3 linked regions of the Homo sapiens genome follow. The protein of the gene in region 1 interacts with the protein of each later gene in a pairwise test. Each region holds a gene or a part of one and is shown in the gene's direction. Other genes may lie near its edges.

Evidence for each region.
Region 2: the proteins of ADGRG3 (region 1) and SEC22A interact in binary tests that used the Homo sapiens proteins (3 or more experiments, as listed by UniProt).
Region 3: the proteins of ADGRG3 (region 1) and C3orf52 interact in binary tests that used the Homo sapiens proteins (3 or more experiments, as listed by UniProt).

Annotation. Positions count from the first base shown.
Region 1 is NC_000016.10:57,671,306-57,674,805, forward strand, and holds part of ADGRG3 (adhesion G protein-coupled receptor G3 isoform 1 precursor), read left to right. Parts: intron 1-2,015; coding exon 2,016-2,163; intron 2,164-3,500. UniProt on the Homo sapiens protein: Adhesion G-protein coupled receptor (aGPCR) for glucocorticoid hormones such as cortisol, cortisone and 11-deoxycortisol.
Region 2 is NC_000003.12:123,218,711-123,222,442, forward strand, and holds part of SEC22A (vesicle-trafficking protein SEC22a), read left to right. Parts: intron 1-3,732. UniProt on the Homo sapiens protein: May be involved in vesicle transport between the ER and the Golgi complex.
Region 3 is NC_000003.12:112,106,720-112,110,451, forward strand, and holds part of C3orf52 (TPA-induced transmembrane protein), read left to right. Parts: intron 1-2,823; coding exon 2,824-2,894; intron 2,895-3,732. UniProt on the Homo sapiens protein: Has a role in LIPH-mediated synthesis of 2-acyl lysophosphatidic acid (LPA). LPA is a bioactive lipid mediator involved in different biological processes, and necessary to promote hair formation and growth.

The DNA of each region.
Region 1 (3,500 bases):
CACATACAGAAAGTCCTAGAATAGGAGTTTTTTTTTTTTTTTTTTTTTTTTTCGAGACAGAGTCTCTCTTTGTCTTCCAAGCTGGAGTGCAGTGGTGTGATCTTGGCTCACTGCAACCTCCGCCTCCCGGGTTGAAGCAATTCTCCTGCCTCAGCCTTCTGAGTAGCTGAGATTACAGGCACCCACCACCACGTCCGGCTAATTTTTGTATGTTTAGTAGGGCTTCCCCATGCTGGCCAGGCTGGTCTCAAACTCCTGACCTCAGGTGATCCACCCATCTCGGCCTCCCAAAGTGCTGGGATTATAGGCGTGAGTCACCGCACTCAGCCTTCCTGGCGGTGTTTTAAAGCACATACAGTTAGATACAGAAAGTCCTAAGATAGGAATGTTTTCTATGAGTTCTCAACACAAGCTGAAAAGATGCACACTCAAGAATTCTTATGGCAGATTGTGAAAAACAATGTCCACCAAGAGGGGACCGGTTAAAAAAGTGTTGCAATGCCCATGGAATGGAATAGTTTGCAACTATATAAAGAATGAGGTGGAAAAGTTCTTCAAGATATATTGCTAGTCCAAGCGTGGTAGCTCATGCCTATAAATCGCAGCACTTTGGAAGGCCAGGGTGAGCGGATCGCTTGAGCCCAGGGGTTTGAGATCAGCCTGGGCAACACAGCAAAACCCTGTCTCTAAAAAAATAAAAATAAACAACATAAAAAAAGGAAAAACTAGCCAGGCATGGTGGCATGTGCCTGTAGTCCCAGCTACTTGGGAGGCTGAGGTTGGAGGATCGATTGAGCCTGGGAGGTCTAGGCTGCAGTGAGCTGTGATCATGCTACTGCACTCCAGCCTGGGTGACAGAGCAAGACTCTGTCTCAAAAGAAAAAAAAAAGATATATTGTTAAGTGATCTTATTTGTGTAAATTTAAAAAACGATGTATCGGCAGGGCTTGGTGGCTCACACCTGTAATCCAGCAATTTGGGCAGCTGAGGCAGGAGGATCGCTTGAGGACAGGAGTTCGAGACCAGCCTGGGCAACATAGTGAGAACCCCCTCTTCTTAATTAAAACATTTTTTCCTTAAAAAAATGATGTACTTATAAATACTTGCATATGCATACCTTCTGCAAAATTTCCAGAAGGCTGTGCAATAAACCGTTAAAGATGGTAAACTCTTTGAACACCTACAATGAGCTATGTATGTCCTTTATCTCTAATCCTTCCCAAAACTTGCAAGGAATGTATTATTAGCTCCATTTTGCTGGCAAAAGATTGAGCCTCAGGTTGTTTAAGTAACTTGCCTCAGGACATACAGTTAGTAGATGACCCAAAGCTTCCATTTTGTGCCCTGTATTAGGTGAAAGGGAACCGAACTAAAAGTCACAAAAGCTGGTCTTTAGTCCTGGAGCAGCCTCCAACTAGCTAGTAACCTTTCTCAAGTCATTTTGCTCGAGGGGCCTTGGTTTGCTGTATTTTCTACCTGTCCCAGGAGGTAGCTGTGATGGTTGTGTGTGCTTCTTAGCACAGGTGTGAGCCACCACGCCCTGCCAATACATCATTTTTTAAATTTACACAAATAAGATAGTGTGAATGTGGGAGAATGAGGCAAACCAAGACAGAATACATCCAAGAGTTTAACCAGGAGGCCACAGTTGCAAGGGCTTTGGAAGGTCTGATGTGGAATAACTGAAAAGCCAGGCAGACTCCCTGGAGGAAGGGGTAAAGGAGTAATAGCACAAACATATGAAACCTTTTATTTACAGAGCCATGTGCCAAGCCTTTTGTACATGCTTTCCCCAAAGCATCCTACCAGCCCTGGGAGATGGGGTATTTGCTTTTACCTTGGAAACAGCCCCAGAGAGGGTCTGCATCCTGCTCAAGTGCACCGTTAGTGTGATGCATGGAGCTGGAATTCTAGCCCAACCACCAGACTCTGGAGCCCCAGCTCCTTTCCCTGCTCCTCATCCTTGCTGCCCATCTTCGTCCAGCCCATTCACACTCTCTGCATTCCTTCCTTAGGTCAGGAAAAGCCCACCGAAGGGCCAAGAAACACCTGCCTGGGGAGCAACAACATGTACGACATCTTCAACTTGAATGACAAGGCTTTGTGCTTCACCAAGTGCAGGCAGTCGGGCAGCGACTCCTGCAATGTGGAAAACTTGCAGAGGTGAGGGGGCCCCCTGAGCTGGAGGGGGAATCTGAAGCTGCTGGGAGGAGGACTATCAGGAAGGGATGGGGCCATCTTCCCCCATGGCCCCAGAAAATGTTGCTCCCATCTGACTCTTCCACCTTGTTTGACACCACAGTCCCCCTGACCCAACATCCCCATTCTAGCAGTTGGGGTACCTACTGATCTAGGGTATTCAGAGATGAATCCACTCCTATCCTGGCCCTTGGGAGTTGTGGAATGACAGACACAGACCCAAATAATGATGACTCCAGAGTGTATACAGAATGGCAGACAAGGTGCCAGGTTAGCCCAGAGGAGGGAAGTTGGCCAAGGCTTCACAGAGGAGGAAACCTGGAAAGGGCTTTGAGGGTGCACAGGAGTTTTCCAGCTGGATCTAAACAATGGTGAGGATACAGGCAACAGAACTTGAAAGTAATGGGGGATAACTGCAATGCTTTGAACTGTAACAATGTAAACCGCGTGGGGATGGAAGAGACAATGGGCAGATGCGATGGGTGGGAGATAGGACTGGAAATATAAGCAGAGACTAAGGTGTGAAGGGTTGTGTAAGTTATACCAATGGGTGAGGGCGGCAGGGCAATGACATATTTTAAGCGCAGGGAGAGTATAGTCAACTCTGCGTTTTGGAATGATTGCTCAGGCTTCAGGGACCGGTGATGCAGGAAGACATGACCCAGTAGGATGCATCACAGGGGTCTGGGTGGGAGTGAGGGCCAAGTCAGCACCACTAGCAGCAATTGGCATTGCGTGCTTGGAAAGGAGAGATGGATTGGGGAGATGATACGATGTAGACTCCGTAAGACAAGAGACTGGTTAGATGTGGGGGTGAGGGAAATGAAGGGGTTTAGAATACAACATCTTTAGGAGCCATCTCCAAAAATATCTCTGCCTCTCTTTCCTTTTCCCACTCCTAATCAAAGTTGCCCATAACTCTTCTGGGATGCCTAGAAAAGCACGTGGCTTACATTAGTACTTAATAAATATGTGTTAAAGGAATGAGTTAAAGCCCTGCGCTCTCAGGCTTGGTGTTAGGACAGCCATCTCATTGGATCATGTTATTTCAGTGGCCTGAAAAGGCTTCCATTCCCACCTGCAGGTGATCCAGGAGCTTCTTAGCACCCCAGAGCTGTTCAGAGGCTCCTCTTTGTGCTGCCCAGGTATATGCCCAAAAGAATTTAAAACAAGTCTCCAAACAAAAGCTTATACATGGGCCAGGCACGGCGGCTCACACAAGTAATCCTAGCACTTTGGGAGGCCGAGGTGGGCAGATCACTTGAGGTCGGGAGTTTGAGACCAGCCTGGCCAACATGGTG
Region 2 (3,732 bases), on another chromosome or scaffold:
TATTGAGCTGCTGCTTTGTGTAGATACTACTAAGCTGTACAATTACTGGTGCATGATATACTCAACAAATTAGTGTATAAATGAGTAAAGGAATGATGCCACCTTTGCACTCATTTATTTACTGAGCACTTATGGTATACTAGACACAAAATATTCTAAGTGCTAAGAATATAATGGTGAGCAATACAGAAATCATCCCTGCTCTCATGGAGTGTGTATATTAGTGAGAGAGACATTGCAACAAAAATATATTAATATACAATTACAAATTGGGTTAGTTTGTGAAGAAAACTAACAGCTGCTATGATATACTGTAGGAGTGGGATCAGTTTAGATTGTGTGTTCTGGGAAGGACTTTCAGTCTAAGAACTGAAGGATATGTAGGAATTAGCCAGTTCAGAATTGGAGCATTGCAAGTGGGGAAGACAAAATCATGAAGTTTCTCAGTTTGGAAGTGGGAGGGCTGGAAGTGGGTTGGCATCCTTGGGGATCTGAAATAAGGCCAGTGGGTGGCTGGAATGTAGAGAGGGAGGAGTAAAGATGTACAAAATGAAGTGGAGTGTTTGGGAGGGCTTCCAGAAGATAACTGTAATACAGGTTCCAAAACTCAGAAGTTTCATTACTCTTAATTTCGGGAATAAAATAGAGATTGATTTGTGGCTTGGAAAAAGTGAAAAAACATTGGTGAATTAGGGATAATTGGTTAATCTATACTACATGGAAGTTGGTATTGTATTGTGGAAAGAATGTGGGCCTTGGAATCAACTAACTTCATCCTATCTTTGCTTCTTAATGGTGTGTGACCTTGGATAAGTTACTAAGCCTCTCTGAGTTTCTTTTCTTTCATTTGTAAAATGGAGATAATAGTGCCCCTTTATTGAGAGAATGAAACTAAATATGTAAAATACTTAGCAAAGGGCCTAGCTCATACTAAGCGGTCAGTAAACTACGTGGTGCTATTACTCTTACTACTATTTCTCTTCTTTCTCCTCAAGGCAGATAGACATCCGCCAGATTGTCTATAAAATATTAGCTAGGTGAACCTGATGAACACAGCAAAAGCATGCACAAACTGGCATGCCTGTAATGACTTTAGACTATTTTATGAGTAGTCCTCAGTGAAGTGGTGGGAGTATTTCAATCTGTCCCATGATTGTTGAAAAAGCAGAATTTTTTTCATCACAAACATAAATGGAACTGTATATACTTTGGGAAAACTAGCTTTGCATTTCAAATAAAGCATTATAAAACTAAATTTACTATGAAAAGCCATAATGTTATAGAACACACTATAGCCTTTTCAGAGAGAATCTTGCAACTGTAGTAAAATAAAGACTCCCTGAAAATGCTCACATGCCATGTTAAAGACATAGGGTTTCCTTTATTTCACATACAATTGTCTAGTTACATTTAGCACAAGTAAGATAGACCATTTGGGATAAACTGTCATGTAGGTGTCTGTGGCTGACTCTGTTATTAATATGGAAATACAGTAAGACTCTGACATAATACAAAAAATGGGTTCCAAAAACTTCAGTCATATTAATGGAGGATAATCAAATAACTCCTAGCTAGCCAATTGGGAGTTCCTAGGATGTGGAAGCCAATTACCAATTGTCTTCAGGTTATTGAGGTTATTATGGGGTATATTTGAATGCTAATGACATGTCAAAGAACTTTGATAATGACAGTGAAGATTTTTTTTGGAAAGAAAATCATTTGACAAAGCATATTTTGACCTTTGATTTAGATATTAATTTGTAGAAAAAGGCAATATGCTATGGCTAAATTAATTTGATTATGATCCTTAAGAGATACATTTTACTTTGTGAATGCTGTATATACACATATAGGAAACTAAAAAGTTTTATGAAACAATATTCCAATATTTTCTGTTATATTTTATTTCAATTTCTGGAAAATGCTGTAGTTCACTAAACTAGTTTTATGACATAGTGGTTTACAACTTGCACTTTGAAAAACATTGCACTAAATGACTGTGTATTAAGTGATGCTTCAGAAAGGAACAACCAGGTTACTCTAGAACCATAAGATCAGCACTATTTCACCACTAGTATATCCCATACCACTAGTAATAGACGACTAGTAGGTGGCAAGCCCATTTGGCTGCCTAGGATGGTCTTTAAAAAAGGTCTCATATATATATATACATATATATATATATATGTCACATGTATATATTCACACACATATTTACTTACAAGCTCTCACAGGAAGGATACATAAGAAATTATTACTAACCTGAATTGCCCAAGGGAAGGAGAACTGGGTATCTGGGCAAGAGTGATAAGACACTTTAAGTGCAGTATACCCTTTTATTTTTCATTCTTGTTAAATTTGAATCCTGTGAACATATTTATTCTAAACATTAATAAATTCTGCTTCTATGTTATTCGAGAAAGAAAATAGTAAGGTGACCAGTATGGATCAGAATTTTACAGTAAAAATTACTGTGTAGGCCGGGCGTGGTGACTTAGACCTGTAATCCCACCACTTTGGGAGGCCAAGGTGGGCAGATCACTTGAGGTCAGGAATTTGAGACCACCCTGGTCAACATGGTAAAACCCCATCTCTACTAAAAATATAAAAATTAGCCAGGTGTGGTGGTGTGTGCCTGTAATCCCAGCTACTCAGGAGGCTGAGACAGGAGAATCGCTTGAACCCGGGAGGCGGAGGTTGCAGTGAGCCGAGATTGTGCCACTGCACTCCAGCCTGGGTGACAGAGCAAGAGTCCATCTCAAAAAAAAAAAAAAAAAAAAAAAAGATTACTGTGTAGTTTAGCAGAGTCCAGCATAGGAGTGGTGAATTACATCCTGCATGCTGTTTACTGCCCCTGATCTAGACCAGCTATATTGACAGTGCTATGCAATGATGTTTAGGTGACTCATTAAAAAGGGTTACTTTGTGTTTTGTGCTCTGCTTATTTATTATAGTGGGGTATATACTAGATTCTAGAAAGCTTTTTTTCCAATAGAATATGGTTAATTTTCATGTTTCAGTGCTTATTTTTTCATTTTTAATTTCTGAATTTATTTAGAAGTAATTTCAAACTTACAGAAAAGTTGTATGAATAAGAAAAGTTCAAATAACACCTGTTCCCATAGTCACCTTTGGTCAACATTTTACCACATTTGTTTTCTCATTTTATCTACCTACCTACTTAACTATCTGATTTATTTTTTTTTTCCTGAACCATTTGAGAGAAACTTATAAATACCATGCCCCTTTCTTCATAACTACTTCAGAGTATATTTTCTAAAATTAGGGATATTCTCTTACTTAACCACAGTACACATATCAGCCTCAGTAAATTTAATGTTCCTACCATACTTTATCTACTCTACTGCCAACTTTCCTTTTTTTGTCGGTTGACCCAGGAATATGCTTTATAGCATTTTTTTTTTTTTATTGCTTTTTGGCACAGGATTTGGACTAGTGTTAGGTATTGTATTTAGTCGTCATATCTCTTTAGCTTCTTTTTTTTTAGACAGAGTCTCTCTCTTGTCACCCAGGCTGGAGTGCAATGGCGCAATCTCGGCTCTTTGCAACCTCCACCTCCTGGGTTCAAACGATTCTCCTGCCTCAGCCTCCTGAATAGCTGGGATTACAGGCATGCACCACCATGCCCAGTTAATTTTTGTATTTTTAGTAGAGACGGGGTTTCACCATGTTGGCCAGGCTGGTCTCAAGTTCCTGACCTCAGATGATCCG
Region 3 (3,732 bases), on another chromosome or scaffold:
CTAAACACAGGCCCTGCCATGTGTCACTGCCACAGTGTTTTCCTCTCAGGGTTGGGGCCATTACTCTGCTTAAGCCAGCCTGTGTGACTACCACACCCTGTGCATGGGTTAGGAGTTAATGATGGCACCTGCCTTATTCTGGAAGCTGGTCTCTAATTAGCCACTGCATCAGACTCAGCTAATCAATTCGCTGAGCTCCTTGCTCAGTTTGCACCAAGCCTCATAGACATTGTGTGGGAGACACAAGACTAAGGGTTGAGGAACCACCCTATTTCACTTCTTTGGGCCCAAAGTGGACAGTGTGACTAACAGCTCCCCAAATGTAAATATGTCCTAAGTACAGCAGAGGAGCATGATCAAAAAGAATCTTCGAGTGAACACTAAAAATGATTTAGTCGACCACTCCATATGTTACCTTAAAATTTTAACTTAAAAATTTGCTGAAAGCCTGTTATGTGCAAAACACTGTGCTGGGCCCTAAAGATTAATAAAGGAAAGAAGGGAAGGAGGAAGCAGAGAAGACTGGAAGGAAGGATAAATATCACCTTTGCCATAGGAAGCTCAATCCAAAAGGAAGAGAAAGACATGAGTGCTTGACATTAGTGCTTGAAAAGATTCTCCTCTGCAGCATCCTCATCCTCCTCTCCATCACAGCATCCCCGTGAAAGCTGCTTTCCTAGTTCCCGAGTTTTCTAAATGACTGTCAGCCTATCGGCAACATCCTGTGCATTGGGGCTTAAGAGCTGTACAATGACTCAGTCATTTTCTCCGAAAGTTTTTGTCACTTTAAGCTTCTTTCCTCCTTGATATTCAGGAGACACTTTCCTTCACTGTATATATATCAATTTCTTCTTCACTGGGTAGTGTGGTCAGATGGGAAGAAGCTGGTTTTTAGTGTTCATAACATGTAGGATTGAATTTTGGCTTCTCCTTTTACTAGCACAGTGACCTGGGACAGGTTTTCTTCATCTCATGGAATGGAGTGCTGTTTAATTTTCCAGTAAAAAGGGGAGATATATTAATGCCTGTTTTGCCAGGTTTTTATAAAGATCACAACAGTAGTGACAAGATTAGAAGAGCAGAAATAGCAGGCACTCTCATCTTTTGTTCTCTTTGAGATATGGGTTGTACATGTTGAGTTAAATGGGAGTGTATTGTGGAAGTGCAGCGTCCTTGACATTCCATTTGGAGTTGAGGGGAAACAGGGTAAGCTCCCCATAGGGCACTGCTGTTTTTTGTATGTTCGACTGCTTGTTATTGAATAAAGTAATAGGTCATTAAGCCATAATGGCTGTAGCTGGGGATGGCACATGTTCCTAGTACTACTAGTTTAGGATTCAGATATCTGAAACACAACTACTCAATGCCTGGGAAAAGATACTTGTAACATAATATCAACAACTAGTATCCAGAATATAAAACTAACCACTTCAGATAGATAAGAAAAAGACAGATAAGCCAAGAGAAGGAAAGGAAATGAGTGAGAAATTCAGAGATGAAAAGTCCCAAAGAGTTAATAAACATGAAAAGATGTTCAACCTCACTAGTAAGCGAGGCAGTACAAATTAAAACAATGTGAAGCACTATTTTATACTCCTCGGAGTGGTAAAAATTTAAGTTTGGTAACACTAAGTGCTGGTAAGGATGTGGGAAATGGATATTTATACATTGCTGGGAGGGGTGGGAAAGGGAGAACAATTTTGTGAAGTTGGAGATGCACCTACCCTTAAACCCAACAATTCCTTTTCTTGGCATATGCCCATTGGAAACTCCCGCATGTCCAAGAAGAGATGCATGGAGACATTAAGGATGATTGCTTCAGCATAAGTTGTGATGGGGAAAATTGAGAATAGTGCATGTGATCATCATCAGAGGAATGGATAGGCTGGTATACTCATTTAAAGGAATCTGTGCAGGAGTTAGGTGAATGCCTTTCATTGAGATTTACTTTATGGGTAAATCTTAAATGTAATTTTGAGTGAAAAAAGGCAAGTTTTAGAAGATTATGTAGAATATGGTGCCTTTTATTTGAATAAAAACACAAATTATATTTTGTTATGATTACATAAATAAGTAGTAATTTGTAAAAATATGCAAGGAAAGGATGCATGCCAGCTTCAGAATGATGGTTAGTATTAAGAAAGAGAGAGAGGAGGAACTGAATAGTATGTAGGAGTCACTTTAGCTTTATTTTGTTTCTTAAATTAAAGGGCTGAACCCAATATAGCAAATATGAAGACATGAAAGCTAGGTAGTGGAAACACAGGTGTCATTATTTTTTATGATGCTTGCAATATTTCATGCATAAAATAAAGCCTCCATATTTTTGCAGTTCCCCTCTTTGTCTCTTTGTCCAGGGGATGTGCTAGACCCATGGCTTAGCATGGCTGTTTGTCTTTACACTGAAGCTCTGGAGAAGGGAGAAAGAAGCCCTGGGCTAAGCAATGTCCCAGGTGCTAAGTGGTCTGTGCTGCTGCTGTCCAGCAGCCATTTTGGGGTCTTCTCTTCTCTCCTTCCTATGGTCTGTGAGGCCTGTGTGGGCTCCAGCTGCTGATATTCTCACCACTAAGGCCACAGGGTGCCAGTGCAACTTCTGAGAGAAACTGAGTCATTTGGTCCTTATAAATGGAGTTCTTTTGAAGTAGCATTAACTTGAGTTTTGATTTATGGTGGGCTCAATTCTTGATCCAGAGCTTCCAGATAACGTTGATTCCAGGCTGGAGTGGAATCTCCTCTGCCTTAGAAGCAGTTTTGCTTTGTCAGGTGATGTGTAATATGATCTGTCGGTAATGTGTGTGGTTTAATTTGCTTCTGTTTGTTTAGCTCACAGATGTGTACAGTACATCGCCCTCTCTGGGTCGTTATTTTACTTCAGTTGAAATAGTGGACTTCAGGTAAGAGTGTGGAACATTACATTTTGCTCTCTTTCTCTGGAAAGAGATCCCCCCACCCCACCCTTCGTCATTTACCTAGCAGGGATTCCCAGAGCCTCAGAGCATGAAGGGAACCTGTAATAGAATCACAGAATGTCAGTGCTGGGAAGGTCTTTTACACCAACAGGCTCAACTCCCTTATTTTACAAATGAGAAAAAGGAAGCCCAGATTAATGGTATAATTCAACCAGGGTCACACAGAAGAGGGGAAAAGCCAGTCCCAGGTAAACCATTTCTGTTTAACAATGAATGCTCAAATAAGCTAAGGGTAGAAGTAGAAATAGATCTCAGGTCGTGCTGTGATGCGAGTGATACATGTATAGGCATTTGCTTTTGAGGAGCACAAGTAATACAGGAGTACATTCTCCTTGTTTAGTATTAAAGATGTAAAGAGGGGCCGGGCGTGGTAGCTCACGCCTGTAATCCCAGCACTTTGCGAGGCCAAGGCGGGCAGATCACTTGAGGTCAGGAGTTCAAGACTAGCCTGGCCAACGTGGTGAAACCCTGTCTCAACTAAAAATACAAAAATTAGCCAGGTGTGTTGGTGGGTGCCTCTAATCCCAGCTACTCAGGAGGCTGAGGCAGGAGAATCTCTTGAATTCGGGAGGGGAGGTTGCAGTGAGCCGAGATTGCGCCACTGCACTCCAGCCTGAGTGACAGAGTGAGACTCTGTCAAAAAAATAAAAATAAATAAAAATAAAAAAAAGAAGACATAAAGAGGTATGCACAGGAAAAGTCTCCCTTCTGCCTCCTTTCTTCTCCACTGCCACCACCAATAACTAATGCCATTCCCTTCCAT